Linked DNA regions of Homo sapiens: regions 1, 2 and 4 are each linked to region 3. The links come from fine-mapping of genetic effects on gene expression. A gene starts in region 3. Each other region holds a variant in brackets. All regions are shown on one strand. Distances are from middle to middle. Region 1 overlaps SPDYE5 (speedy/RINGO cell cycle regulator family member E5). Region 2 overlaps GTF2I (general transcription factor IIi). Region 3 holds the start of GTF2I (general transcription factor IIi). Region 4 holds the start of POM121C (POM121 transmembrane nucleoporin C).

The links. PIP is the estimated chance that this variant, and not a neighbour inherited with it, causes the effect.
Region 1: its variant is the best candidate, but not a certain one, in a credible set for the expression of GTF2I in whole blood (GTEx, PIP 0.60).
Region 2: its variant is the best candidate, but not a certain one, in a credible set for the expression of GTF2I in whole blood (Lepik 2017, PIP 0.63).
Region 4: its variant is the best candidate, but not a certain one, in a credible set for the expression of GTF2I in substantia nigra (GTEx, PIP 0.85).

Annotation. Positions count from the first base shown.
Region 1 is chr7:75,494,465-75,502,425 of GRCh38, forward strand. SPDYE5 (speedy/RINGO cell cycle regulator family member E5) reads left to right here. Exons shown (of 9, transcript NM_001306141.4): 3 at 692-910; 4 at 2,210-2,440; 5 at 3,474-3,532; 6 at 4,767-4,852; 7 at 6,898-7,291; 8 at 7,414-7,518. The coding sequence ends at 7,473. Among named protein-coding and RNA genes, the nearest start is that of SPDYE5, 6.1 kb to the left of the region's middle. The variant C/T (reference allele first, on the strand shown) is at 3,816.
Region 2 is chr7:74,713,795-74,720,078 of GRCh38, forward strand. It overlaps GTF2I (general transcription factor IIi), which reads left to right. Exons shown (of 35, transcript NM_032999.4): 10 at 1,063-1,122; 11 at 3,100-3,156; 12 at 5,085-5,147. All of the region lies in intron 2 of GTF2I-AS1 (GTF2I antisense RNA 1), which reads right to left. Among named protein-coding and RNA genes, the nearest start is that of GTF2I-AS1, 12 kb to the right of the region's middle. The variant T/TC (reference allele first, on the strand shown) is at 3,536.
Region 3 is chr7:74,653,518-74,661,478 of GRCh38, forward strand. It overlaps GTF2I (general transcription factor IIi), which reads left to right and starts at 4,201. Exons shown (of 35, transcript NM_032999.4): 1 at 4,201-4,551. RefSeq lists silencers at 3,751-3,910, 4,281-4,460, 4,481-4,770, 4,841-5,360 and enhancers at 3,991-4,110, 4,131-4,180, 6,131-6,360, 6,631-6,770, 7,659-7,961 and 1 more.
Region 4 is chr7:75,479,007-75,486,967 of GRCh38, forward strand. POM121C (POM121 transmembrane nucleoporin C) reads right to left here and starts at 7,293. Exons shown (of 15, transcript NM_001099415.3): 1 at 6,858-7,293. RefSeq lists enhancers at 6,601-6,680, 7,018-7,517 and silencers at 6,961-7,030, 7,051-7,200. The variant G/A (reference allele first, on the strand shown) is at 4,122.

The DNA of each region.
Region 1 (7,961 bases), 840 kb after region 3:
TGAGACTGGGAGGAAGAGGTTGCAGTGAGCTGAGATCACGCTACTGCACTCCAAAAAAAAAAAAAAAAGAAAAGAAAAGAAGGGTCAGCGGTCAGGAAGGAGAACCTGAGGAGGGTGTGTGGGAAGAATGGAGAAATTCAGGCTGGGTGTGGTGGCTTACACCTGTAACCCCAGAACTTTGGGAGGCCAAGGCAGGCGGATCACTTGAGGCCAGGAGTTTGAGACCAGCCTGGCCAACATGGTGAAACCCTGTCTCTACTAAAAGTACAAAATGGAGCTGGGCATTATGGCAGGCACCTGTAATCCCAGCTACCTGAGAGGCTGAGGCAGAAGAATAAATGGAATCCAGGAGATGGATGTTGCAGTGAGCTGAGATTGCACCACTACACTCCAGCCTGGGTGACAAAGCAAGATTCTGTGTCAAAACAAAACAAAACAAAAAAGGAGGGACTCAGAGAGCCAGAGACCAGGGAAGGACATGAAGCAGTGTTCGGAGGACAGAGAGAGAGAAGAATGGGGAGGGGAAGGAGCGGCACATGGGGTTGAGCAGAGGAGAAAATCAGAAAGATGGCTTAGAGAAGCCAGCAGTCTGCGAGTCTGGGGAGGATGGAGAGTGGTTTGGGGTTTTGGGTCGGGGTCTAAGGTGATCAGATGCAGAAGCATTACACGGTGGCCTGGTTTCTTTACTCAGCCCCTGGGGTAGATCCCAGCCCCCCATGTAGGTCCCTTGGCTGGAAAAGGAAGAGGGAGTGGTCAGATGAATCTGCGGAGGAGCCGGAGAAGGAGCTCGCCCCTGAACCTGAGGAGACCTGGGTAGTGGAGATGCTGTGTGGGCTCAAGATGAAGCTGAAGCAACAGCGAGTGTCACCCATCCTCCCTGAGCACCACAAGGGCTTCAACAGTCAGCTTGGTAGGAGGACACCCCAGAGAGCACCTCCAATCCTGTTCTTTCTAAAAAGAGGAAACTTCCAATAACCACACTTTTCCAATGGGAAAGATACGCCCCCCGTGGGTGAGCTCTCCACGCAGGAGGACTCAGAAGTGATCACTCATGAGGGACACTTAGGAGACGATAGAGGACTAGGCTAGACTTGATAAAGGTTGGCGCTTGGGATGAGAAAGCTTGGTTTCGGGCCAGGTGCAGTGGCTCACGCCTGAGATCCTAGCACGTTGGGAGGCTGAGGCAAGAGGATTGCTTGAACTCAGGACTTTGAGGCTGCAGTGAGCTATGACTGCACCACTGCACTCCAGCCTGGGTGACACAGCAAAACCCTGTGTCAAAAGAAAAACGAAGGCCGGGTGTGGTAGCTCATGCCTGTAATCCCATTACTTTGGGAGGCTAAGATGGGTGGATCACTTGAGGTCAGTTGTTCGAGACCAACCAGACCAATATAGCGAAACCTCATTTATACTAACAATACAAAAATTAGCCAGGCATGCCTGTTATCCCAGCTACTCGGGAGGCTGAGACAGGATAATTGCTTGAACCCAGGTGGAAGAGGTTGCTTTGAGCCAAGATAGCGCCACTGCATTTTTTTGAGACGCTGTGTCAAAAAAAAAAAAAAAAAAAGAAGGAAGGAAGGGCCCAGAAGTCAGGAAGGAGCACGTGAGGAGGGTGTGTGGGAAGAATGGAGGTACTGAGGCAGGGTGCACTGGCTCACACCTGTAATCCCAGCACTTTGGGAGGCCAGGCAGGCAGATCACTTGAGGCCAGGAGTTGGAGACCAGCCTGGCCAACATGGTGAAACCCTGTCTCTTCTAGAAGCACAAAAATGAGCTGGGCGTTCTGGTGGGCACCTGTAATCCCAGCTACTTGGGAGGCTTAGGCAGGAGAATCACTGGAACCCAGGAGGCGGAGGTTGCAGTGAGCCAAGATCGCACCACTACACTCCAGCCTAGGCCACAAAGCAAGACTGTTTCTCAACAACAACAACAACAACAAAAAAAAAAAAAAAAAAAAGGGACTCAGAGAGCCAGGGACCAGGGAAGGATATGAGGAAGTGTTCTGAGGACAGAGAAACGGGAGAATGGGGAGGAGAAGGAGCAGCACATGGAGCTCAGCAGAGGAGACAGACAGAAGGAAAGATGGCTTGGAGAAGCCAGCAGTCTGCGAGGCTGGGGAGGATGGAGAGTGGTTTGGGGTTTTGGGTTGGGCTCTAGTGTGATCAACTGCAGAAGCATTACACCATGGCCTGGTTTCTTTACTCAGCCCCTGGGGTAGATCCCAGCCCCCCGCATAGGTCCTTTTGCTGGAAAAGGAAGATGGAGTGGTGGGACGAATCTGAGGAGTCGTTGGAGGAGGAGCCACGGAAGGTGCTCGCCCCTGAGCCTGAGGAGATCTGGGTGGCGGAGATGCTGTGTGGCCTCAAGATGAAGCTGAAGCGACGGCGAGTGTCGCTCGTGCTCCCTGAGCACCACGAGGCCTTCAACAGGCTGCTTGGTAGGAGGACACCCCAGAGAGCACCTCCAATCCTGTTCTTTCCAAAAACAGGAAACTTCCAATAACCACACTTTTCCAATGGGAAAAATATGCCCCAGTGGGTGAGCTCTCCATGTGGGAGGAATGTGAAGTGATCACTCATGAGGGACACTTAGGAGATGATAAAGGATTAGGTCAACTTGATAAAGGTCAGCGCTTGGGATAAGAAAGCTTGGTTTCGGGCCAGGTGCAGTGGCTCCTGCCTGAGATCCCAGCATGTTGGGAGGCTGAGGCAAGAGGATTGCTTGAACTCAGGACTTTGAGGCTGCAGTGAGCTATGACTACACCACTGCACTCCAGCCTGGGTGACAGAGCAAAACACTGTCTCAAAAGAAAAACCAAGGCTGGGCACAGTAGCTCATGCATGTAATCCCAGCTACTCGGGAGGCTGAGACAGGAGAATCGCTTAAACCCGGGAGGCAGAGGTTGCAGCGAGCCAAGATCAGGCCACTGCATTCCAGCCTGGCCCACAGAGCAAGACTCTGTCTCAAAATAAATTAATAAATAAATAAAAATAAAAATCAAATAAAGAAAAACAAAATCAATAAACAAAGAAAGTGGTTTCAGCTGTGCCCTCTGAAACTTAATGTCTCTTACTGACTTTTCTAAACCTAAGTGTTTCCATCCATAGTGAGGGATACCAAGGCCATGGTCACACCCTGATGTGACTGTCTCATGAGGAAATGATGGGAATTCCTTTATGACTCTGCAGTGGTCCCTCCGTGTCTGCTGGAGGGGGTCCTGGTTGATTCCCAGCTCTACATCCTGTAGATTCTCACACCCAGGGCCTCCTTCGGCCTCTTCTCAGGGGAGTCTCAGAGCAGGAGCCTCTCTCCCTTGCCCAGTGAAAGTCATTCTCCCCTCTCCCATCCACCTCACCCGCGGCCACAATCCTGAGACTTCCCCCCGGGAGGCACACTTCTCCTCGCTGCCCTGCTGCTCCCACGGAAACCCTGTCCTGCTTCTCACACTGACATCTGCTCTCTAATCACAGAGGATCCTGTCATTAAAAGATTCCTGGCCTGGGACAAAGATCTGAGGGTGTCGGACAAGGTAAGGTTGTTCTCCATGTAACTGTTCCTGTTCCAACGCATGGCTCGGGGGAGGGCGCAGCTTCCAAACCCACAGTTCTCCCTCCACCACCTCCCACCAGATGCTCCTACAGTCTTTTTTTTTTTTTTTTTTTTTTTTTTTTTTGTGAGACAGAATCTTGCTCTGTTGCCCATGCTGGAGGGCAGTGTCTCAATCTTGACTCACTGCAGCCGATGCCTCCCGGGTTCAAGCGATTCTTCTGCCTCAGCCTCCAAGCAGCTGGGATTACAGACATGAACCACCA[C/T]GCCTGGCTAATTTTTGTGTTTTTAGTAGAAACGGGGTTTTGCCATGTTGGCCAGGTTGGTCCTGAACACCTGACCTCAGGCGATCCACCTGCCTTGGCCTCCCAAAGTGCTGAGATTATAGACGTCAGCCACTGTGCCCGACCAGCTCCCATGGTCTTGAGTCTTGGCACCCACAAATTTTTTTTTTGTGAGACAGAGTCTAGCTCTGCTCCCCAGGATGGAGTGCAGTGGCATGATCATAGCTCATTGCAGCCTCTAATTCCTGGGCTCAAGCAATCTTCTTTCCTCAGCCTCCTGAGGAGCTGGGACTAGGCACATGCCACCATGCTCAACTAATTTTTGAAATGTTTGTAGAAACAGGGTCTCACTATGTTGCCCAGGTTGTTCTAGAACTGTTGGGCTCACATGATCCTCCTGTCTCCACCTCTCAAAAAGTACTGGGATCACAGGCTTGAGCCGCCACTCCCGGCTATTCTTGGTCTTTTTATGATTTGTCAGCATCTCCCTCAGGATTCTGCTGGTCTCTTGCAGAGTGAATGAGTGGCCCCTGCCTCTCCTATGGGTCCTTTGGGATCTGAGCTCTGGGCCACAGTCTGGCCGCAGCCCTGAAGCTCCTGGCCCCTCTACTCTCAGCTCTTCAGGACAGTTCTCTGCCTGGCACACAAAAGACCCTCCTTACACCAGCCGACCTAGACACACCCCCTCCAAAGATCCCATCGGAGCCCACCATCCTGGGAGCATCACCCAAAACCCTTCCTCTGGCTTCTCGGATTTGCATCCGACCTTCGAATACCCCTCCATCCCGCAATTTCCAAATGAGTACAGTCACCCCAACACTGAGGTCCCTTCTCTGATGGGCAGCCCCTCCCCAGACCCTCATTCCCCCTCTCCACAATCTTCCTCTTCCAAGATGTGACCTCTCCCTCTCTGTGTTCCTTTCTCTCCATCAGTATCTCCTGGCTATGGTCATAGCGTATTTCAGCCGGGCCGGCTTCCCCTCCTGGCAATACCAACGCATTCATTTCTTCCTGGCTCTGTGAGTGGTTTGCTGCCTCCTATCCATCAATATCCAATGCCCTGGGACAGCGGGGGAAGTGGGATTCCAGCCTTTCATTTATTCTTTCACCTATTTGTCCTCTTTACTCTGTGTACAAAAAAGAGAGGATTATACTATCATAGACTGTTGTTTCTAAACAGAAACTCAGGCTGGGCACAGTGGCATACGCCTGTAATCCCAGCACTTTGGGAGGCCGAGGCAGGCGGATCACCTGAGGTCAGCAGTTCGAGACCAGCCTGGCCAACATGGCCAAACCCCGTCTCTACGAAAAATAGAAAAATTAGCTGGGCGTGGTGGTGTGCATCTGTAATCCCAGCTACTCGAGAGGCTGAGGCAAGAGAACCCTTTGAACCCAGGAGGTGGAGGTTGCAGTAAGCTAAGGTCGAGCCACCGCACTCCAGCCTGGGTGACAGAGTGAGACTTTTTCTCAAAAAAAAAAAAAAAAAAAAAAAAAAAGCCAAAAAAACAAACTCCAATGCCAGTGTACAAATAAAAGAATAAAACAAAAGGAACCATAAACCGCTCCTAAGGGGAAAAGAAAAGGAGTGGAGGAGCGGACATGCCGCTTCCTCCAGCAAGCAGACGTTTCTGGTTCTTCTCTCTCTCTCCTTCCCACATCAACCACAAACGCCATCGACCTCCTCTGGGTTCCCATGACAGAGGCCACAGTTCAGGTCCCCCTCGCATCACTCGAATCCACTGTCAAATGCTCCCTGCTGGGGTCTCCTGGAGTCTCTCCCCAAGCCAGGGGGCTTCCTAGTGCAGCCTGAACATCTTTCCAAAGCACGACAACCTCACTGCCCACCTGAACAACTTCCTTAGCTGATGCCTTTCTCTATCGAGGCCAGGGTCCACAGTGTCAATTCTACAATCTCTACAAGCACACTGGCTCGCCATCTTGGTATTTCCTGGCTCGGCTTCACTGCTTCTTCCAAATGCCCTCCACTCGACTTTGTGTTTGTGTTTTCTGTCTGGGTGTCCCGCACACATGTGGCTCTGAAGGGAAGGACCCATTCCTTGAAGTCAGTTCACCCCACAGCCTCTGTGATGCCTTCCCTCATCTTCCAACTTCTGCATGCCCGTAGCTCTCTAGTTACATCCTGGACACTGGGATTAGGTCATCTGCCTTGATTACTCCCAGTCCCATTAGACTAGATGCCTGTAGAAGGCAGGGTCCTGGCAAAATATCAATGTATTCAATTTCTTTTATTTTTTTGAGACAGACTTCCCCTGTCCCCCAAGCTGGAGTGCAGTGGTGAGATCATAGCTCATCGCAGCCTCCATATCCTGGGCTCAAGCGATCCTCCCACCTCAGCTTCTTTATTAGCTCCGACTACAGGGCTGTGCCACCACACCTGGACTGTTTGTTTGTTTGTTTGTTTGATTATTGAGATAGAGTCTTGCTCTGCCTCTCAGGCTGGAATGGAGTGGCCCAATCTCAACTCACTGCAACCTCCGCCTCCTGGGTTCACACAATTCTTATGCTTCAGCCTCCTGAGTAGCTAGGCCTAACGGGTGTGCCACCGCACCAGGCTGATTTTTGTATTTTTAGTAGAGATGGGGTTTCTCCGTGTTGACCAGGCTGGTCTCCAACTCCTGGTCTCAAGCGATCCACCTGCTTCATTCTTCTAAAGTGCTGGGATTACAGGCATGAGCCACCGCGTCTGGCATATTTCTTATATTTTTAATAGAGACGAGGGTCTTGCTATGTTGCCCAGGCCCGTCTCAAACTCCTGGCCTCAAGTGATCCTCCTGCTTTGGCCTCCCAGTGTGCTGGGATTCCAGGCATAAGCCACCACTCTCGGCCACCAGTTGGGTTTTTGTCTCCATCCTGAAGGAGTGGGAGACGCCCTTGATCAGGTCTCTGTCCAGCAGAGCCCTCCTGAGGAAGGCGTGGCTCTCTGCAGGGTGGGTGCCAGTCCTGAGCTAGGGACGGTCCCTTACCTTCCTCTCTGGGAAGCTGACCTCAGCCGGAGGCCTCTCTTGGTGGTGCCCCTGAGCAGCAACCTGATTTCTGTCCTCAGCTACCTGGCCAATGACATGGAGGAGGACGACGAGGACTCCAAACAAAACATCTTCCACTTCCTGTATGGGAAGAACCGCTCTCGCATACCCTTGCTCCGTAAGCGTTGGTTCCAGTTAGGCCGTTCCATGAACCCGAGGGCCAGGAAGAAGCGCTCTCGCATACCCTTGCTCCGTAAGCGTCGGTTCCAGTTAGGCCGTTCCATGAACCCGAGGGCCAGGAAGAACCGCTCTCGCATACCCTTGCTCCGTAAGCGTCGGTTCCAGTTAGGCCGTTCCATGAACCTGAGGGCCAGGAAGAACCGCTCTCAGATAGTCCTGTTCCAGAAACGTCGGTTCCAGTTCTTCTGTTCCATGAGCGGCAGGGCTTGGGTTTCCCCGGAGGAGTTGGAGGAGGTAGGTGGGGCCTGGGGAGGTGGAGGAGGTGGGGAGGAATCGGGTGGGCTGGAGGCTGGATGAGGGGAGAGAGGGGTATCCTGGCGAGTCCCCGTCTTCTCAAAGGGCGTTTGTTTTTCCAGATCCAGGCTTATGACCCAGAGCACTGGGTGTGGGCGCGAGATCGCGCTCACCTTTCCTAGAGCTCCAGGGACCGTGGAGGCCTGAGGTCATCGGCCTGAGAGAAGGTACATCTGCATCCTCCGGGGTAAAGGCAGAATATTGGGGTCTATTTCGGAAATCCGAAGAACCCAATTGCTTGATCCGGCTTCAAGCCTGGGCAACGTGGCGAGATCCCCTCTCCACAAAAATACAAAAATTAGCCAGGCGATGTGGGAGGCATCTCTACTCCCAACTACTCAGGAGGCTGAGGCGGGAGGATCGCTGGAGCCTGGAAGGTCGGGGCTGCACGGAGCCCTGATCCTGCCACTGCACTCCAGCCCGGGCGACAGAGTGAGACCCTGCCTCAAAAATAATCATAAATACTGAGTTGGGGGAGGTTCATTATGATTGATGCACTTGAGTTACCGATTTGGGTCGAGGGTTCAGTGAAGCTTTGGTTTACATCTTGTGCAGCTAACCACGGTGAGCACAGAGCATAAGACTTCATCATGAGGAGGTAGGATTAAGG
Region 2 (6,284 bases), 59 kb after region 3:
TTCCTTTTCTTGAGCTCTGTATATTTTACTCAGAGTCAGAAGACTAGGAAGCAGTGGATCTAGCATTTGAATTTAGGAGTCTACATTCCAAGACTTGCTCTTCTTTGAGATTCCAAATAGAAACTATTTCTTTATTTCTCATGCAATTGATTTTTTTCTCTGATGTGTCCTTTGCCTGTAATGTGTAGTGTGGTGCATCTTTGTGAAATTTCTTAGGCTTTAGAGAATGAAGCCTTTCAAACAACTTCGGATGTTTTCCCAATTCTCTTCAGAGATAGTTAACTGAACTGTGGTCATATTAATGCCAAAATGTGTTTTATATTAAATAGCCATTGAAAACACAATGTTTTGTTTTCTATTTTAAAACTATTATTATTTTAATCATTAAAAAGTTTGATGATAACATGTAAATGTGTTGTCAAAATATAGCAGTTTGTGAAGTTGAATTTAACTCAGAGTACTTTCTGTGTTTTGGAAAGAACCTTATTAGAAAAAGTGCCCGCTGTGCTGGAAGAAAGGGAGAATGAATTAATAGCTGTTAGTTTGTCACATTTCTATTTCAGTAGAGATTCAAGGAGATGGTTTACGTTATTTTAGAGATTCTAAGGAAGGTATATAACATTTGGTTCTGCATTTTTCTTCAGTATGACAAAAGAGTAAGCAAATATTTGCCAAAGAAGAAACAAATAAACCTGTGAGATAAACCTGCATTTGTAATCTGTATGAAGTAAAAGTTACAGTTTACTGTTATGAACATTGTACTGTTTTAAAAAACCCACATCTTCCATTTTAGACATACCATTCCCATTCAATCCATATGTCCAGTCATCTTCAAAATTTCTTTTGACTGTTTACATATGAATTCACCTGATTACATTTTTCCATTCACCAAGACCATAAATTGACATTGCTCATCTTGTCAGTCTTTTTTTTTTTTAATTTTTTTCTTTTTATTTATAAAAAGGCCATTCCATGTATCTCACCCAAATTTGTTGACTAAAGTCACCCCACATTTTTTTTTGGGGGGGATTACTTTTGAAGTATTATCTTTGTATCCCAAAGCAGGCCCTTCTGAAACTGATGATGTTGATGAAAAACAGCCCCTATCGAAGCCTTTGCAAGGTATAATCTTTTCACTTCCATTCTCCCACATACTGCTTGTGTTTAATGTTTCCTTATATTGCACAGACTGTGTTTTAATATTTATAAGTACAGTATTACTTTTCTAAATGGAAAAGGAAAAAAATGTATTGGCCTTTTTTTAACATATAAATGAACTTCACAAGCAACAATTTTTCAAAAATCAATTTTCCCTTTTGTGAATCTAGTAATGAATCTCGAAATGGGTACATGACACACTTTCCTATTGAAGGTAAAGTACACATTTATACCTTATCTCAGAACAGTCAGAAGCCAGGTTACTGTTTTATTGGTTAGTGATGCAAATATTGATAAGGTCAGGTTGATACTTAGTATTTAGAAGAATTCTGAAATAGCACTTGTTAATCTGTAAGTTTCGAATTGATTGCCTTTTTGGCAATTTTTTACAGTGTTCCCAAACTTGATACTCATAGGCTATTAGTAATGGCATTTACTTCTATCTATTCTGGCTTTGAGTGCATAAGATGTATTTTCTTTAGGCTTAGCATATAATGTAAATGTAATTGTTTATTTCAGATTTTAAAAGACATACAGAATTATTGCTTACACGAACAATCATCTTAACTGTTATTCTTTGCTGAAATTTTACTTTTTACCTACTGGCCTCATCATTTCACTCTCATTCCTTTGACCTCACATCTCTTTTTTCTTTGACTTTTACAGTCAAATAACTTAATGCTCCATAAATTCAAATATTAAGATTAAAAAAAGAGAAAGGAAGTGTGTAGAGAAAGCATATTTTAAAAATGAATTAAAGAGTGACTCATAGGTATAGGTTTGTAGATTTACCTAGAGTTTGAGTTCAGGTGAGTTTTCACAATATAAAGTAAGTGGAAAAGAATCCCCAGATAATTGTGACATGCTAAAGCTAGATACTGAGAACCAAAAAGATGTGACCTCAGTATGGGACTTTTAATTCAAGGATATTAGCTACCAAATGACAGTTTTTCAGACCGTAAGCATTGCTTTTTAAAAATCAAGATAAAATACATTTATAACATATCTTACTTTTAGTATAGCTTCTGAATTTAGTTCTCAATAGATAAGACAAAAGAGATGAACATCTGCTTCCTTTCCCCTCAAGCGATGTATTCTTACTAATAGGTAATATGTTTTTTTTTGGTACTTAAAGGCAGTGTTTTTCAATCTTTTCCATGTTAGTAGCTCAGATCTTTAAGGACAGAGGATACAAATTAGGGGGCAGCTTGCGTTCTTAATCCTAAGTGGCTCTCTGATGTCTTAGATTCTTCCTTTCCTTTTTGTGAGTAAAACTTCTGCTCTAGTAGGATGAGCCTGTTCACCTTGTGACTGCCTAACTGATCATTGCTTTATGTTCCAGTTTTTAGAAGCAGGCAGATTATATTACCTGACTTAAAATGCTTTTGAGACTAAAGGTAGTATCTTAAATTTTAACTTACGAGTTTCCTTTAAGTACAACTTTGATGAAATTATGGGGATTGAGTTTCCATGGCTTTCACCATAGTGAAAATGGAAAGCATGAAACATTCCACAGCAAACCCTGAACTTATTTATAGGGAGTTAATTAAGTGTCTGATCACAGCAAGCATTTACTCTGATCTGTTTGTGTATGTGTGTCTTTGACAGATGAGCATGGTACTTGAAGCATAATTCTGCTTCCTCAGATTCCAATATCTAGTAATTTTATCATGTAGTTATAGTAACTAATATTAAATCCCCAAACCTACTTAGGTCTACTCTGTATTTGTGTTTTCAAATAATTTTTTTAGCTTCCAAATAGAAGCGTTGTATTCTTTTCTGAATTAGAAAACATTGTTCGACTTAACTGCTAAAGAGTTAGACAATCATTTTGCATATGTTTATTATGTCTTAGATTGTTTGCATTGTTACCTAGATTCTCTTTCATCTTTCAATGTCAGTTTTTATTGGTTTATTATATGTTGTTTATTTTCTTTTTAGGAAGCCACCATTCTTCAGAGGGCAATGAAGGCACAGAAATGGAAGTACCAGCAGAAGGTTAGGAGAAAAAGAGATTGCATATTTTCCACTATTTGTTGTATGTTTATTCTATTTTATAGATTCTATTATCCTTAAAACACCTTATTTGGAAATAAAAGGTGATTCCCTTGGTATGCCTTCCTAGCCAACAGGTTATTATTTTTTTAAAAATTCTAAGATGTAATATACTTCTTTGACCATACTGATTAATAAAGCCTATGGGAATGAAACTAAGTGGTAAGTAAAGCTCTTACATGATGCAAAATGCTACTTTTTTTTTTGTCCTGGTTTTCTTGTGCCATATTAAATATCTTTTAAGGAAGAATAGCTTCAGTGTTTCAGAATTAAAATTACTAGCTCCATTCATATTTTATTTTCAAATGTATTTTTTAATACT[T/TC]CTAGTCTCTTAGTAGGGTAGGAATTTAGTCTACATAAAATTTATACAGGAGAGAGTTTCTCCCTTTATTTTGTACTCACAACTACTCCATAAATGACTTTGTCAGTTTACCAGCTCTACAGCTTTGGTTTTAGAATTGAACGCCTGACTGAGGTACAGTTCTTTTTGTTTAGAATCCTGAGTTCAACTTATCATGTAGGGTGGCTTCTTATTTCCAAGGTGTTTAAACGGTTCCACACAAATTTTTGTAGATTTCTCCCAAGGAAAATGACTGGTAAGGTAACTGAATCTTGTTTTAGAATTATTTCTCTCATAAATTGGTCATGTTATCCCTTATTTTTCTAGAATGAAAAGAGGAGTCTGTTGTGTAACTGCTTATATTCCATTGTATTTACATTTTTATTTTAATTAAAAAAAAACATTTGTTTGATCTTTTACCTTCTTTGAGGGAAAGGCAATCTTAAAAGTTCCCCAGTATAGGCTGGTTTCTCCAAATTCAATTATAGAATTAGGGTTTCTCCCTGGAATACATTTCTCTCAAAAATACTGATATGCTCATTGTAAACCGTTGGTTACATTTCCCTGTCAGCCCTTTTTATAGAAGATTGTGTGGGTGAATGTTGTATGCTTTACTGTGTGGAGGTGGGTATCTTCTGAGTGACAGAGTTTTCAGCTTTGAATAGGCGGGATTTAGAACAACAAGACCTAGGTAATAGATCATGTGCAGTACGAGGGCTCATTGGGCAGTACCGATGGCTCACCGCCTTGCAGCCCCGCCGGCAGGTACTGCACCTTGAAGACTGCGTTTTTAGGACATTTTTACTGTCATATTCCAGTGTTAACAAAGTTGAATCGAATCTGGGTTCTGGCCTTTATTCCTTTACTAACAAGTAAACATAATCTTTGGCAAATCAATTAATCTCTCAACCTTTGCACAATGAAAGAGAACTAATGAAAATACTCTATAAGCTTCTAGCACTAACACTCTGATGTACATTTGTCTTGTGTAGGAACAAATATGAATGAACTTTGTAATTTTTGAAATATGTTGCATACAAAGCCAGAGGATATAGTCTTGTGTGCACTTGTGACACTCAGTCTCTTGATAGGAAAGTCTCCATTGTAAAGCCTGGGTTGTGGTTTTATTGAACAGTAGAAACCACTCCTCACATTTCTGAAAGGAGAGAAGAAATTCTAACCAAAGTAGAAAGCATTTGTTTCTATCCGAGCATCTTCTAGCTGTGGCAGGAAATTCATTGTGACTTTGTCATATCCTCATTCCTCCAAGACTATGGGATTTTTTTGAGTCAATTTCTGCAGGTAACATGTTATCATCTAAATTTTTCCAGAGTTTTTCTAATTTTTGTTTTCTTTTATCCCTATTTATAATGACAAGGGTCAAATTTTAATTTCATTAATATGAAATGAATGAAAATGCCAGTGGATTTTTATAGTAGGCTGCTTTTGGAGTATCAAATCAGTAAAATGTTGGAACATATGGAAACATGCTTAATAATGAATGTCATTTTAGAATTTTATTTTTTTCAAGATTCTACTCAACATGTCCCTTCAGAAACAAGTGAGGACCCTGAAGTTGAGGTGACTATTGAAGGTTAGTTATCTAAAAGCCTTGATTCCAAAGTTTACTTCTGGTCATAAAAATACTTGTCACATTCACATTGCTAAATATGCATTTCATTCATTTTTAAAGGAGACTTGTGGGACGAATACATGTGTCTGTGTGGCCAAAGCAGCCCACTCCCCAGTGCTTTGGGAGTTTTAGATGACAGAATGAGGCCGTGAGAATTAGCATTGGCCCACGGGTGGCCCAAGCTATCCTTGCTATCAGTGGGAGTTGAAAAGAGAAAAAGAAAATTATGACCAGACTTGATACACACAAAAACAGATTCTATAATCTATTGGGTTGTGATAGAAGAAGACTTATTTGGAGCTGGAATCCCTAATTTCTAATTAAGTAAAGTGGAGGAGAAAGTGTTGATAGTTTAGTGAGTAATTTTTAAAGCAAGTCCCTGCCCCCTTCAACGACCCGCAAATACTACTTAGAGGCTGACATACAATTTATCTTTCAAAACTGTTTTGAAGCAATAGCTACAAATATATTCTACAATACTCTCTATAGCTAAGATTGCTTCAAACCTGTTTTTTTCTCCAAAGATAAGCTTGAACTCAGCTGAGCCAGTTTATCCTGAATTATTTGAAAATTCAGCTAATAGAATTATTAACTATCACTTCATATTAATAGTTATTAAATGAGCATTGCGTTTTTCCTTTTAAATTAATGTCTCACAGCTGGGCACGGTGGCTCACACCTGTAATCCCAGCACTTTGGGAGGCCAAGGTAGGCAGATCACCTGAGGTCGGGAGCTCAAGACCAGCCTGACCAGCATGGTGAAACGCCCATCTCTACTAAAAATACAAAACTAGCTGGGTGTGGTGGTGCATGCCTGTAATCCCAGCCACTTGGGAGGCTGAGGCAGGAGAATCGCTTGAACCCTGGAGGCAGAGGTTGTAGTGTGCTGAGTTCACGCCATTGCACTACAGCCTGGGCGACAGAGTGAAACTCCATCTCAAAAAAAAAATTAAAATTAAAATTAATGTGTCACAATACTTGTGTAAGTTTCTTCCCCTGAAAGTACTTCTTTCTTGTGGTAAAATGTGAAAATGGTACAGTAAATTGTACAGTGGAAAGTTTTCTTCACCCTCACTCTGCTCCCAAGTCCCAATACTG
Region 3 (7,961 bases):
TTAGTAGAGACAGGTTTCACCATCTTGAGACGGAGTCTCGCTCTTTTGCCCAGACTGGAGTGCAATGGCGCGATCTCAGCTCACTGCAACCTCTGCCTCCCCGGTTCAAGCGATTCTACTGCCTCAGCCTCCCGAGTAGCTGGGATTACAGGCACATGCCACCATGCTCGGCTAATTTTTTTTGTATTTTTAGTATCGATGGGGTTTCACCATGTTGGCCAGGCTGGTCTCAAACTCCTGACCTCGTGATCCTCCCACTTCGGCCTCCCAAACTGCTGGGATTACAGGCATGAGCCACCGCGCCAATCACATGCTATTTCAAAGCAGTCAACGAAGCTCTAAGCCCAGAGTCTAAGCGAAGATGCATCTGAGTTGGTGGAAGTGCTCACGTGGGGTCCAGATCCATCTCTAGCTTGGCCAAGGCCCATTTGACCTGGCTTTGTTTCCCACCAAACAGAAGAATGGAAAAGTCACATCATATGGACGCTTATCTGAAGACTAAGCTAAACATTAACAAAAAGAGAGGGGGAAATAATTGAAATAACATGGATGGTTCTGCCAGCTGTTGGACTCTGTACTTATGTCCTGACTGACCATGAGCTGAGAGCCGCAAATCTGCTCTTGCTGAAGCCCCAATCCAGTCTGCATCTCTTGGTATATGCATCCTGTGATTCTAGTATTTTTTTTTTTTTTTTTGAGACGGAGTTTCGCTCTTGTTGTCCATGCTGGAGTGCAATGGCATGATCTCGGCTCACAACAACCTTTCCCTCCCAGGTTCAAGCGATTCTCCTGCCTCAGCCTCCTGAGTAGCTGGGATTACAGGCATGCGCCACCACGCCCGGCTAATTTTATATTTTTAGAAGAGATGTGGTTTCTCCATGTTGCTGAGGCTGGTCTCGAACTCCTAACCTCAGGTGATCTGCCTGCCTCGGCCTTCTAAAGTGCTGGGATTACAGGCATGAGCCACTGTGCCCAGCCCGATTCTAGTCTTTAAAGGAGGATTTCCTGGCTGGGTGCAGTGGTTTACGCCTGTAATCTCAGCACCTTGGGGGGCTGAGGCAGGCAGATCACTTGAGGTCAGGAATTTGAGACCAGACAGACCAACATGGTGAAACCCTGTCTCTACTAAAAATCCAAAAATTAGCCGGGCATGGTGGTGCATACCTGTAATCCCAGCTACTCGGGAGGCTGAGGCAGCAGAATCGCTTGAGCCCAGGAGTTGGAGGTTGCAGTGAGCCAAGATCGCACCATGCACTCCAGCCTGGGCACCGGAGTAAGACCCCGTCCCCTCCCAAAAAAATCAATAAATAAAATAAAGGAGGACTTCCTACTACATCATTTTTAGACACAAATCAACTATTATTTTTCTTCTGTTGCCCAATCCCCAAAACAGTAATCTGATCCTACATTTGAAAAAAAACCTGGGCCCAGTGCAGTGCCTCATGCCTGTAATCGCAGCACTTTGGAGGCCACGGCAGGAGGCTTATTTGAGCCCAAGAAGTCAAGACCAGCCTGGGCAACATAGTGAGACCCGTCTCTACAAAAAACGAAATTAGCTGGGTGTGGTGGCACATACATGTTGTCCCAGGCATTTGGGAGGCTAAGGTGGGAGGATGGCTTGAATCTGGAGTTGGAGGCTGCAGTGAGCTGTGATCGAACCACTGCAGTGCAGCCTGGGTGATACAGTAAGACCCTGTCTCAAAAACAGGAAAAAAAAAAAGTAAAACAAAACCCCAGCTTTGCAGAGAGATAGTATCCAAAGTGATTTATAACAATGGCCACAATTAATGTAGTATCTATGCCACTAAGATGAAGGAGAAATTGGTTGACAAGTGTTCCAACAAGCCGCAGTGAGCCAGACCTTAATGAAGACAGAACACGCAAGATCTTTATGACTGTAACACATGAATTTGAGGGTTACAAACCTTAATGGCAAAATGCTCAGAAAAACGCTTTGTCTGCATACACATTGCCTCAACAGAGACAGCTTTCTGACTAGAGGTAATTCAAAACCAGCTCATGTTGACCTAACCGTTTTAGGAATTGCTTCAGTCTCAAAGAAGTTGGAGTTGTTTATGAAGAGGCAGCAAAATTCCACTGTGGGCCCGGTGCGGTGCTCACGCCTGTAATCTCAGCACTTTGGGAGGCTGAGGAAGGCAGATCACTTGAGGTCAGGAGTTCGAGAACAGTCTGGGCAACATGTTTAGTAGAAACCCGTCTCTACTAAAAATACAAAAATTAGCTGGGCGTGGTAGTGCACGCCTATAATCCTAGCTACTCAGGAAGCTGAGGCAGGAGAATCACTTGAACCCGGGAGGTAGACGTTGCCGTGAGCCGAGATCGCGCCACTGCACTCCAGCGTGGGTGACGGAGCGAGGCTCGGTCTCAAAAAAAAAATTCCACTGTGAACCACTAAACAAATTCATAGAAGAAAGGAACTACCTTCCAAACGTTTTCACGATGATAAGAGTCATCTTGGCTAAATAAACTTCTGCCTTGCTAACTCACTTTGTAACATCCCCCCAAATTCTACTCCACGACTCCACTATACCCAGGAAATCCTTTCCCTGACCCCTCCAGGTGGAGAAACCACTCTCTCAACAAAAGATACTCACTGAAGTCCACAGCAGCTGAAATCTGCATCTCGTAGGCTGGCTGCTCTTACTAGAGTGAGTTATAGGCTTCTCAAGAGTTAAATTTGTTCCTAAATATATGCCAGTGGCACGTGGTATTGGGAATAGAGAATTTAATTAAATATTACTAAATGTCAATGAAATACAAGTGCAAAAAGAAAGTTGCTCTTGTGCAAACTTAATGAATGACTTTCGAGACAATCGACAAAGGAGAGTCACAATCTTATTAGGCAAGGACCGAAGGGATCCTAGACATTGTCCGGGAAATCGCAAAAATTCAGGCTTCTGTAATCAGATTGCTTCTCCGGTGAGCTTTACGCTCTCCATGTATTTTTCAAAAAAAATCCAACATGAAAATTCTAGAGGAGGCTTTATTGGGTGCGGTCTGTGCAAGAGAGACGATGGGGAATGCCAATCGGAGAACCCAGATTGAAAGGAAAGGTTTTTGGAACCCACATCAAAAGACTGGCTGCTCGGAAAGTTTTCTCGCTAGCGACAAAGGCTTGGAGGCTGGAAAAAGCGTCGTGGTCGCCACCTACCGAGAAGCGGCGGGTGGGGGGAGGATGGCCGTCGTGGCCCGAATCCCCAGTGGGTGGTACTGGGTGGGGGGGCGGGCGGGAATCAAAAAACCACTCAATCTCGTGCTTTACATAAACATCTAAAAATCGTCGGCCTCGGGGTTGTAAAGTTTTGGAGTTTAACTTAGGTGAACAGTAATGTCTCTCCATTTTCAAAACCCACCGGCTAATTCAAGTTGAGAAGCAAAAAATAGTGGTAGGGGGAGGAGTTTGAGTTAAATCGCATCGCGGTTGACAGAACAAAACAGGAGCTACGAGTCAGGATTTCTGCTCCCACTCCCTTGCAAGTTTCCTTCCAAATCCTGAGGGAGAGATAGAGGCGGAGGGTCTGGGGGAGGAATTAAAACACAAGGTCTCCTCCCCTCTCGCCTGTCCGAACTTGGGGGCAACGGTCTCTTTGGAGGCCAGCTTGGAAAACACTAGAGAGGAGTTCTTTGTGTCCTGGAGGGTGGTGCAAGGCGGAAGGACTCCCCTTTTGCAGAGCAAGGAGGGCGACGGCCCAGCCCGGGGCTCCCCGGCTTTTGCAGCTTCCCTGCCTCGCAATTTGCAAGGAATGTGGGGTGCAAGAGCAAGTGGCGGACTTGGACGGCGGCTGGCGCTCGGTGGGGACGACGCCGGAGCCACCACCCGTCCAGATTTCCGTTTCTGCACCCCGGCTCCCCTCCCCCACCCGGGCGGCCGCGCAGGCCCCAGGTGCAGCCATGTTCTCGCTCCCACCACCCTCGCCTCCATTGACAGCCCTTGCTGGAGAGGGCCGGGCGCCGCGCTTGCCTCGTCCTCGGGTTCGGGGCTAGCCGGCGCGGTGCTTCCTGGGAGTTGTAGTCCACGACCGCCGCCGCCGCGTTGACGGGGAACGCATCCGAAACTACAACTCCCGCTGGGCGGCGCTGCGGATGCGCAGGCGCAACGCGCCTTCGAGGAACAAAAAAAAAAAAAAAAAAAAAAAAAAAGAAAAAAAAGAAAAAAAAAAGGAGGAGGAGGAGGAGGGTGAGAGAGAAGCTGGGAGAGCAGAGAAAAGGGGCCACCGGTCGCCCCCCCGCTTCCCCGCACGCGCTCTCCAGCCGCGGCCGCCCGCCTGCCGCGGTCACCCCGGCCTCTGCCTCTGTCCCCCAGTGATCGGATCAAGGCGCTGAGCGAGGCCCTGCCTGCGGGGCGGCCATGCGGCGGTGACAGGAGCGCGACCGACACGCACGGGCCCCTCGCCCCCTCTCGCCTCCCGTCCGCTCGCCAGCTCCCCTCAGCCGAGGCTGCTCCGCGGCGGCCGCAGCCCGCGCGCGGCCCACACTCGCCTCCCCTCGGCACCCCCGGCCCCGGAGCTGCCTGGAGGCGGCCGCACTCGGGTGAGTCCCTCTCGCCTCATCCCCGCGCCCCCCGCCCCCGCCTCGGGGGCCATTGCGAGCGGGGGCCTTTATTAGAGACTTTGCCCCGCCGGGGCCTGCAGGGACAGGGGCCTGGGAGCCGCGGCCCGCCGCGCGCGGTGTGGGGCCTTGGGGGGCGCCCGTGCCGCCTCCCCCTACCCCCACCCCCACCGCCTCGCCGGGTCTCGAGCCCCGCCGGCCTTGGCAGTGGCCGAAACGAGGCGATGGGGGTGGGGCGGCACGGACGCGGTCGCGGGGGACGACAGTGGCACGCGCGCGCCTCAGTGCGCGTGGGGGAGGGGCGCGCGCGCCGACCGGCGTGCGGTGGGGGGGCGCCTCGCGCGTGCGATCCCGCGCGCGAGCGAGCGAGCGGCCCTGCGGGCTGCGCATGCCCCGCCGCGCTGATTGGCCGGCTAGGCGGTGCGGGGGCGCGCGCGGTGCCAGGCCCGAGCCGTCGTGGGGTCGCGCTCGCCTGGTGTATCTGGGGCTCCTGCGCCGGGGCAGCAGACGCGCGGGATTGGCCAACCGGCGCGGGGGCGGGGCCGCGCGTTGCCTGGTAACTGCGGCGGGCGGGGGAGCGGGAGCGCTGTCCCCCGCCCCGCCCCGCTCCCAGGTGGAGTCCGCAGTGGGCTTTGTCCCGGGCCGGCCCGGCGCGCCTGCCCCGCGGGGCCTGTTCTTTGGGGGAAATAAACACAATGACCGGAAGGAAAACTTCAGCTTTAGGCCATGAAAATTAAGCCGTCTGGGTTCAGCCAGCACCCAGACGACGGGAGTGCAGAGGAAGAAGGAAAATGAAATGGAAAAAGCTGTCTCCTTCCCGCTCCCCGACTTCTCCACTTTTTCTTAATCCAGCTTTTGCTTTTTCGTGTAGCGAATTTTGTCCTCCCTAGGTTATGGATTTGCGCTGATTTGCGGCTGGGGATGTTCACAGGTGGGGTGCTGTTGGAGTAGTGTCCACTCTTGGCGATGCGCAGCTCTTGCTGACTACTGACCTCCTTTTTTTAAAAAAAATTATTTGTGGAGATGCGTTCTCACTTTGTTGCCCAGGCTGGTCTTGAACTCCTAGGCTCAAGCGATCCTCCCACCTTGGCCCCCCATAGTGCTGGGATTACAGGTGTGAGCCATCGCTTTCGGCTTAATTTTCTTTTTTTTTTTTAGAAACAGGGTCTCTCTGTGTTGCCCTGGCTGAAGCGCAGAGTGGCACAATCATAGCACATTGCAGCCTCCAACACCTGGGCTCCAGCGATCCTCCTGCCTCAGCCTCCTCAGTGGCTGGGACTACAGGCGCATGCCATCATGCCCTGCTAATTTTTTTTTTTTTGAGATGGAGTCTCACTCTGTGGCCCAGGCTGAAGTGCACTGGTGTGATCTCGGCTCACTGCAACCTCTGCCTCCCGGGTTCAAGCCGTTCTCCTGCCTCAGCCTCCTGAGTAGCTGGGATTACAGGCGTGCCCACCACGCCCGGCTAATTTTTGTATTTTTAGTAGAGATGGCGTTTCACCATGTTGGCCAGGCTGGTCTCCAACTCTTGAATCAAGCTGAAAGCAATCGGCCCGCCTCGGCCTGCCACCAAAGTGCTGGGATTACAGGCGTGAGCCACCGCCCTGGGTCACGCCTGGCTAATTTAAAATTTTTTTTTAGAGATGGGGTCTTCTTGTGTTGCCTAGGCTGGTCGGGAACTCCTGGACTCTGGTGATCCTCCCGTTTAGGCCTCCCAAAGTGGTGGGAGTACAGGCTTGAGCCACCACGCTGGGCCTCATCTCTTTTAAATTCAACTTTGCCGCAGACAATGGCTTGATCAGCCAACAGTGCAGAGGAGAAGTCTCCAGTCCTTCAGGGAACAAAAGGGGAAGTTAGTTTGCAAATGAGAACGTGCAGGTAGAGTGCCCTGCGGAGGCGGGGTCTTCTCCCCAGGCTGAGGCCTGTGGTGTGGGATGACCGATTTTATTTCCTGCTACAGGATTTTTCTGTGGCTGCTACCTTGGCTTTCGTTTCTCCTCCTCCTTGAGATCTTGGTCTTTTGGCTGGAATGACATTTTTCAGCCTATGGAAATCTTTCTTGCTCATATGCAGCCACTTCCTTAAGGTCTTCTCTTTTTTTTTTTTTTTTGCTGCTGTTGTTGAGAGGGTTTCGTTCTATCCCCCCAGGCTGGAGTGCAGTGGCGCGATCTTCGCTCACTGCAACCTCCACCTCCCGGGTTCAAGCGATTTTCCTGCCTCAGTCTCCCCCGAGTAGCTGGGATTACAGGCGCCTGCCCCCAAGCCCCGCTAATATTTGTATTTTTAATAGAGACGGTGTTTCGCCATGTTTGTCAGGCTGGTCTTGAACTCCTGACTTCAGGTGATCCGCCTGCCTCGGTCTCCGAAAGTGCTGGGATTACAGGCGTGAGCCACCGCTCCCGGCCTGTGGTCTTCTCTTATATTGCATAGTCAGAGTTTGTTCCTTCTTAGTCTCCCAATCAACTTGTGTGCCCTTCCTCGCAGGGCACCTTTATTTTCTCTCTTTTTTTTCCTTTTCCTTTTTCTTTTCTTTTCTTTTTTTTTTTTTTTCGGAAGCGGAGTTTCGCTCTCGTTGCCCAGGCTGGAGTGCAGTGGCGCGATCTCGGCTCACTGCAACCTCCGCCTCCCGGGTTCAAGCGATTCTCCTGCTTCAGACTCCTGAGTAGCTGGGATTACAGGAGCGCTCCACCACGCCCGGCTAAGGGCACTTTTACTTTCCTCTGCATCTGGCCTAGTCACTGGGTGTTGAGCTCGTAGGGGCAGGGACAAGAAGCCTTTTCCTCCTATGTCTTTCTCCCTCCACTTCCCCCTCCAGTTTGGCATCGTCCTCGTGCCTTGCCGGTGGTAGCAATGCTGCTTACATTTGAGTGTCTTCCGTGCCCCCTCCATGGCTCTTGAGCGCTTTGGATGTACAGTATTTTTCTTATTTAATCTTTGTGACAAGTCTGTAATTCTATTCTATAGAGCGGAACAAGTCTAGAGAAGTTGGAGAGTTCTGTACTCTTGCTTGCCTAGCACATGAACCTGGCCAGTGTGACTCAACCCCTAAGCCGAGGTTGTGAAACCACCGCGCCTGGGCGTCCCCGGGAGAGCTGGCATGTGCGGACTCTGCTTGCTGGGCCCTACCTCCCAGGCTGATTCTGCAGGTCTGGGGAGTTGCCCCACAATTTGCATTTCGATTAGCTCCCCAGGTGGTGTTGATGGTGGCTGCTTCCCGGACAGCCCTTTGAGAACCATTCACAATGGTGCAAAATGAAGGGAGAGAAATTTATTGGAGATATTTGCTTTTTCTTACTTTAAAATTAGATCTTGGCCGGGTGCGGTGGCTCACACCTGTAATCCCAGCACTTTGGGAGGCCGAGGGAGGTGGAACACCTGAAGTCAGGAGTTGG
Region 4 (7,961 bases), 830 kb after region 3:
GACATGTTATATATAGGGGAACAAACATGAGTATGAGATCAGATTTCTCTTAGAAAAAAATGTAAGCAGGAAGACAACAGAGAAACATATTTAAAGCACTGTGGAGAAAAATCCAGCAAAAACACCTTTAAAAGCAAAGACACAATGAAGACATTTGCAGACATATAATAATTCATCATCAACTAGAAGAAATGTTACAGAAAGTCCTTCAGGCAGAAGTAAAATGACAGCAAATAAAAATTTAGATTTACACAAAGGAATGAAGAGTACCAGAAATGGTAACTGTGTATTTTCTCTCATTACTTAAATCTCTTTAAAAGATACCTGGGCCAAGTGTGGTGGCTCACACCTGTAATCCCAGCACTTTGGGCGGCTGAGGCAGATGGGTGACCTGAGGTCAGGAGTTCGAGACCAGCCTGGCCAACATGGCGAAACCTCGTCTCTACTAAAAATACAAAAATTAGCCGGGCGTGATGGTGGGTGTCTGTAATCCCAGCTACCCAGGAGGCTGAGGCAGGAGAATCACTTGAACCCAGGAGGCAGAGGTTGCAGTGGGCCAAGATAGCACCCCTGCACTCCAGCCTGGGGGACAGAGTGAGACTCTGTCTCTAAATAAATAAATAAATAAATAAATAAATAAATAAATACAGTTTAATTAACAACAACGTAATAGATAGTGTGTGGCACTGATACCACCTGTAAAAATAAAATGAACAACGGTGTAAAGACCAAGAGGAGAGAAATGGAAGTGTCCTATTGTAAGCTTCTCTTATTCTAGGAAAAATGGATATTACTTAAGAATAAACTATGACAATTAAAGTTGCATACTATAAATTCTAACTCACTAAAATAACAAAACAGTGTGATAGCTAAAAACCCAACAAAAGACATAAAGTAGAATCATAAAAAATTCTCAACTAATCAAAAGGAAGGAAGACAAACAGAGACATTTTAAAAAGAAACAAAGAAGATGAGACTAAAAGAAAGCAAAGACAACGGACTATAACCTAACTCGTTTTATCAATAATCACATTACATGTAAACGGTTTATACATCCCCAATTATGAGACAGAAATAGACTGATGAAAACAAGCAAGATCCAAATTTTGCTGCCTGTAAGAAATAATACTTTAGATATAAAGATGCAAATAGGTTAAAAGTAAAAGGATGGAATAAGATATACCATGCATGTATTACTCAAAAGAATGCTACATAAATAACAAAGTACATTTCACAGCCTGGAATATTAGCAGGGATAAGGAAGGCCATTTTACAAAGTGGTTAATTAATCAACAGGACGTAATAACCTTGAACATTTATGTATCTAATATAACACATAAAGCAAAAAGTGGTAAAATTGCAAAGAGAAACAGAACCACAACTGCAGCAGATTTCAATCCCCTCTCCCCCACAATTGATACAAGTGGGCACACAATCAACAAGGATATAGTACACCTGAACAACACAACCAACCAACTTGATCTCATTAACATTTATCAATCACTCCACCCAACCAGAGCAGAACAAGCCATCTTCTCAGGCATGCACAGAATTTTCCCAAGACAGATCCTGTTCTGAGCCATAAATTTAAGAGGTTCCATGTAGCATTCCAGACAAAAATTCACAGTCTAAATCTAATCATGAAGAAAGATCAGGGAAACCTAAATTTAAAGACTTCTATAAAATCATTGGCCTGTATTCTTCAAATGTTATAATGGCACTGTGGAACAAATCCGTATTAAACAGACTTAAAAAGCATGAAAACTAAAGGCAATTAACAGTCCTAGACTGAATCTTCTACCAAAAATTAAAAATTGCTATAAAGGAAATTATTGGGAAATTGGCAAAACTGGAAAATGAACTATAGTTTAGATAAAAGTATTAAATCAATGATAAATTTCCTGAATTCAATTACTGTGCTATGGATATTTAATATAATATTCTTGATTTTATGAGCTGTAATCTAAAACTTTATAGGGTAAAGAGGCATGACACGTTATACCCACTCTCAAATAGTTCAAAAAATATATATATATATATAAATATATATATATACACATACGTATATAGGCATATAAATGATTAATGTGGGAAAATGTTAAGAATGAAGTATCTGAACAAAAGGAAGTATCTGGGATTTCTTTGTAAAATCCTTGCAATTTTTCTGAAAATCTGAAATGATTTCAAAATAAAATGCTAAATAGAAAATAATGCTATCAAATATATATGTATATATTTGCTATCAAACATATATTATATGTATATATTTGCTATCATATATATCAAATATATTTCAAAAGGACTCAGAAACCAACTTAAAGGGATTCCGTCTGGCCAAAGATGGAACCACTTAATTTTCAAAAAGAATCACAACTTCTATGTACTGAAATATTTACTATCTGTTTAAACCCATGAGCTCATGATGGTAACAAAACAAAATACCCTCCTGCTTAAAAGCCTACTCAATATTTTAGAAACTGTCTTTCCTGCATGAATTACATAAACAAATAGAGAATAGAAATTTATCTTTAGAAAAGTATTCTAGGCCAGCCGTGGTGGCTCATGCCTATAATCCCAACACTGGGAGGTTAAAGAAGAGGATCACTTGAGCCCAGTTCAAGACCAGCCTGGGCAACATAGAGAAACCTGTCTCTACTAAAAATTAAAAAATCAGCTGGGCATTGTGGCATATGACTATACTCCCAGCTACTTGGGAGGCTGAAGTGGGAGGATCACTTGAGCACAGGAGTTTGAGGCTGCAGTGAGCCATAAACGTGCCAGCCTAGGCGACAGAGTGAGACTCTGTCTCCAAAAAAAGAAAAGAAAAGTATTTTGGCTAGTAAATAAAGAAGAAATGGTAGAATTAGCAGATCACCATTTTGCCTCCCCTAATGAAGGCAAATCACAGCAATAGTAAATCACAGCAATAATCAAGTCAATAGTTCTTAACTTCACAAAAACAAAGAAGGTAACACGTGCCTCCAGAAGTAGACAAATGCCACGTATGGTATAGTTGTGTGAAAAGAACTGAACATAAACCTGATTAGACTTCCAGATCAAACTACCAATTTTACCAAGGCATACAAGATATTTTTAAAAAATGTGCTAAAGGTGAAACAAGGGTAACATAATCCAAACTGAGGATAACCAACCCAGTTTCTTCAAAACAATGAGCACGCAGGAGACATACTATGGGAACTATTAAAAGATTTAACCCAACTGCCACATGTATTAAGAAAGACAGTATTATGGGTTATTCCTAGCCCCTTTTAAAAAGATTCCTTATTGGTCAGGTGTGGTGGCTTACACCTGTAATCCTACCACTTTGGGAGGCTAAAGTGAAAGGACTGCTTGAGGCCAGGAGTTTGAGACCAGCCTGAGCAATACAGTGAGAATACATTTCTAGGCCGGGAGCAGTGGCTCACGCCTATAATCCTAGCACTTTGGGACACCGAGGCGGGCAGACTGCCTGAGCTCAGGAGTTCGACATGCATGACACGGTGAAAGCCAGTCTCTACTAAAATACAAAAAAAATTAGCGAGGTGTGGCAGCGTGCACCTGTAGTCCCAGCTAGGCGGGAGGCTGAGGCAAGAGGATCGTGTGGGCCCGGGAGATTGAGGTTGCAGTGAGTTGTGATCACGTCTCTACACTCCAACCTGGGTGACAGAGCAAGACCCTATCTCAAAAAAAGAAAAAAAGAAACAAAACAAAACAGACTTCACCATTTAAAGACAAACAAATACTTACAGATGAATCTTTTTAAAAGCCAAGAAAAGAGAGACTCCATGGAGAAAATATCAGTTTGGAAGTAACGGATGTCAAAGGCAGACAAAGGGTACTGTGAGGAAGGGGCTAGGAAATGCCCACTGGATTTGACTGCAATTAAATCACTGGTCACCTTTACTGACTGACTTAGCAAAGTGAAAAGGACAAAACGAAAACACGGAGAAGTGAAATGAGAAACAGAAATGAGGAAATCTTCACAAGAGAGTAACTGTTTGTATTGTTTGCTGTGCAACCCGAACAAAAAGACGAACAAATATTTGACGGATGATCACGTCATTCATTCCCCCCATGATCTAGGACTCAACAGTAAAAACAGAATTGTTTACTTGGATCAC[G/A]ATATTTCCGTCCCTGGAAAAATTATATGCACCAAGTTCTCCTTGGGCAGCAGGCCCTCTGCTTACATAAGCACCAAGAATAAGCCATAAGTTACAGTAATTTAATGGTTGTTGTTAGGAAAGCTATCCACAATTATATCAACTTGAATGAAGAAATTTTTCCAAGTCCCAGAAAATCTTTTAAGTCCACAAGTAACAAAACTGGTTTCTCCTTATAATCAATGCAAACGATGTCATGGATGGTGATATGGTTTCGGTGTGTGTCGCCTCCCAAATCTCATGTTCAATTGTAATCCCCAATGTTCCCTCTTCCTCCTGCTCTGGTGATGGAAGATGCACCCACTTTCCCTTCACCTTTCACTTGACTGTAAGTTTCCTGAGGACTCCTCAGCCACGCTTCCTATGATAGAGCCTGCAGACGTGAGCCAATTAAACCTCTTTTCTTTATAAATTACCCAGTCTTGGTTATTTCTCTATAGCAGTGTGAGAATGGACTAATACAGATGGCATTTTCCTTTTGTGATGACTGCCAAGAGTATCAGTCCTAGGTGCGGCTCAATTTCAACAGCCTTAAAATATACTACCCATACATACAAGCTTCACAAATCATTTTTGGTGCTGATCTGCCACACTAACTATATTTTACAGGATAATGTCTATTTCCACATTCCCATTTTAAAGTATGAATCCTGGCTGGGCTCGGTGGCTCATGCCTGTAATCCCAGCACTTTGGGAGGCTGAGGCGGGAGGATCACCTGAGGTCAGGAGTTTGAGACCAACCTGGCCAACATAGTGAAACCCCATCTCTTCTAAAAATACAAAAAATTAGCTGGGCATGGTGGCCCACGCCTGTAATCCCTGCTACTCAGGAGGCTGAGGCAGGAGAATCACTTGAACCCAGGAGGTGGAGGTTGCAGTGAAGCGAGATCATGCCACTGCACTGCAGCCTGGGCAACAGAGCAAGACTCCATCTCAAAAAAAAGAAAAAAAAAAGTATGAATCCTTACAAACCTCTTAAAATGCATCATAAAATAAAGTTGAGGAACATATACACAAGCAGGAAAACTCACCTGCAATGTGTTCATTTTCTGCTGCTCTTGGAAACATGCAGAGACTGTGGCTGATAGACCTAGAGGGGCAGAAGCAGGTCACTGAAGTCATGAGGGCTCCGGCCTGCAAAGGCAGAAATCACCTGCATAAGAACCGCAAAAGAAAGCTCAATAGGCTAACACCCTGTGAACACTCAACCTGCAAACACTCAGAAGGGTCTAAAAGAGTGATACAGGGTTTCACCATGTTGGCCAGGCTGGTCTCAAATTCTGGCCTCAAGTGATCCGCCTGCCTGGGCCAACATGGCAAAACCCCGTCTCTACTTAAAAATAACAAAAAAAATTAGCCAGGCATAGAGTCACATGCCTGTAGTCCCAGCTACTCAGGAGGCTGAGGCACGAGAATCCTTTGAACCTGGGAGGTGGAAGTTGCAGTGAGCCGAGACCACGCTGTTGCATTCCAGACTGGGTGAGAGACACTGTCTCAAAAAAAAAAAAAAAAAAAAAAAGAGTGATAGGGGAAGCATGCGCCTGTAACTCTAAGATAATCAGGTAGTAATTAGATGAGTTAGACTCTCATGGGTAACATGACTCCTTTTACAAATAGTCTGCCATCATCATCAAATACAAGGCGCAAAAAGAAAAAAAATTCCCATTATACGGCTCATGTTTTTTGTGGTTTGTTGGTTGAGACAGGGTCTCAATCTGCCACCCAGGCTGGAGTGCAGTGGTGCATTCACGGCTCTCTGCAGCCTCGACCTCCTGGGCTCCATCCATCCTCCCACTTCAGCCTCCTGAGTAGCTGGGACCACAGATGCATCCCAGCATGCCTGGCGACTTTTGTATTTTTTGTAGTCAGGGTGTCCCCATGTTGTCTAGGCTGGTCTCTAACTCCTGGTCTCAAGGGATACTCTTGCCCTAGCCCCGCAAAATGCTCGGATTACAGGTGTGAGCCACTGCATCCCGCCCGCATTTTCTTATTGTCTCTTTAAACTGCTTAAAATAAAATAAGCCATAGGAATTGAGTATGTGAGCTCTCAGAAATGAAATGAATGTGTATAAAATATGGTTTTGTTTCTAAATTATCTAACTGAACTTGGTTATTGCTGCACCTAATAATCTTCTATTAAGAAAACTAGGATACGGGAGAAAGAACACTGGCCTGGGAGATAAGTCTCCTGGGTTCTACTATGAGCAGCTCTACCCACAAAGCCGGTGACCTGGTCAAGTCACCCACCTAAGGCCCAGTCTCTTCCCCTAGCAACTGAGGCAGCAGCAGAGAATCCCTGCAGACTGTTCCTGCATTACTACGATTCTCCCAGGGCAGGTCTAAGGGGGGGGATCAGCAGACACTTAAGTGAGAGAATAGAAGTGCTGACGGACGTTTAGAGGCGGTCGAAATCTGGAGCACGGAGAGGAGGAGGAAGGACTGTTAGGGGTTAGCGGGGAGTGGAGACGACGTCCGCAGCTGAGGGTGGTGACACCCTCCACGCCTCCGTAAGCCTCGTCCTCCCAGATCTTCCCATGCAGCACCTGTTCGGTGCAGCCGGACCCTGCCCTCAAACCCAACACATGTCTCTCCGGCAAGCAATCGGGACCCTCCCTCTGCCCCACACTCAAAGGTCCCCAACACAAGGTGACTTCACCCAGGCCCTTCTCGCTCCGGGCCCAAAAACCCAAGACTTACCCTCCTGGGGCTCCGCAGCCTCTGCCCCACGGCTCCCGAGAGGCCGGGGCGGGCTGCTGTCGCTGGCGCGCGCGTCTGCTCGCGAGGTCCCCTCCTGTCCACCTCACCAAGGCTGTTCTGCTCCCGAGGGGCCCGGGCCGGGCCTACGGGGCAAATCCAGGCGGGTGTCCTTCTCGGGGCCCAGATCCGCCTCCCTGGGGCTCCCGGCCCCTCTGGCCCCAGCGCCGCCGGCTCCGGGGTTCACGCTCGGGGGTCCCAGCTCGAGCCTCTACCCGGCCCGCGCGAACCCTGGGCCGCACAGCTCCCGCCCGCCTAGGTGCTGGTCCGGGCGGTCAGCATCCAGCCCCGCAGACTCGGTGATTCTCGTCCACTAGAAGCCAAAGCCTGGGAACGAGAGCAAGCGATGACCTGAAGAGGCACAGGAAGCGAGGGCAGTGCGGAGGTGGCGCGCATGTGCGAACACGCACGCAGGGAGAGGTGCACAAGCGCAGGAGTGCACCGGAAGTCCGCCTCCCGGGACACCCACCGCGGGTCCCAGGACAAGTAACGGACTCTATTTCCCAGGAGCCTACGCGCTCCCCCAGTTTTGGGGCCGTCTTAAATGTCTCTACCCTGCCTAAAGGTTAAGAAGCTCCAGGCTATGAGCTTTGGCAGCCCTGAACCCCGGACTGAACTTCACCTTTGTCTTTACTCCCTTTTAGGGTCAAATCCAGGGCTCCGTTACTGGGTCCTGGAGCCCAAGTCCTCTGGGTTAGAACGGAGTTTCCCATAAGGAGAAGGAAAGGAAAGGGTGTATCATGGTCACTGCTCTGAAATGCTGAGAAGTTTCACTCAAATACTGGGACAGGATAAATGCCCAGCGATGCTTTCCAAGGAACAAAAAGAAAATAGAATTTGTAGCTGGGCGCAGTGGCTCAAGCCTGTAATCCCAGCACTTTGGGAGGCCGAGGCGGGCAGATCGCGAGGTCAAGAGATAGAGATCATCCTGGCCAACATGATGAAACCCTGTCTCTACTAAAAATACAAAAATTAGCTGGGCGTGGTGGCGCGTGCCTGTAATCCCAGCTACTCGGGAGGCTAAGGCAGGAGAATCACTTGAACCTG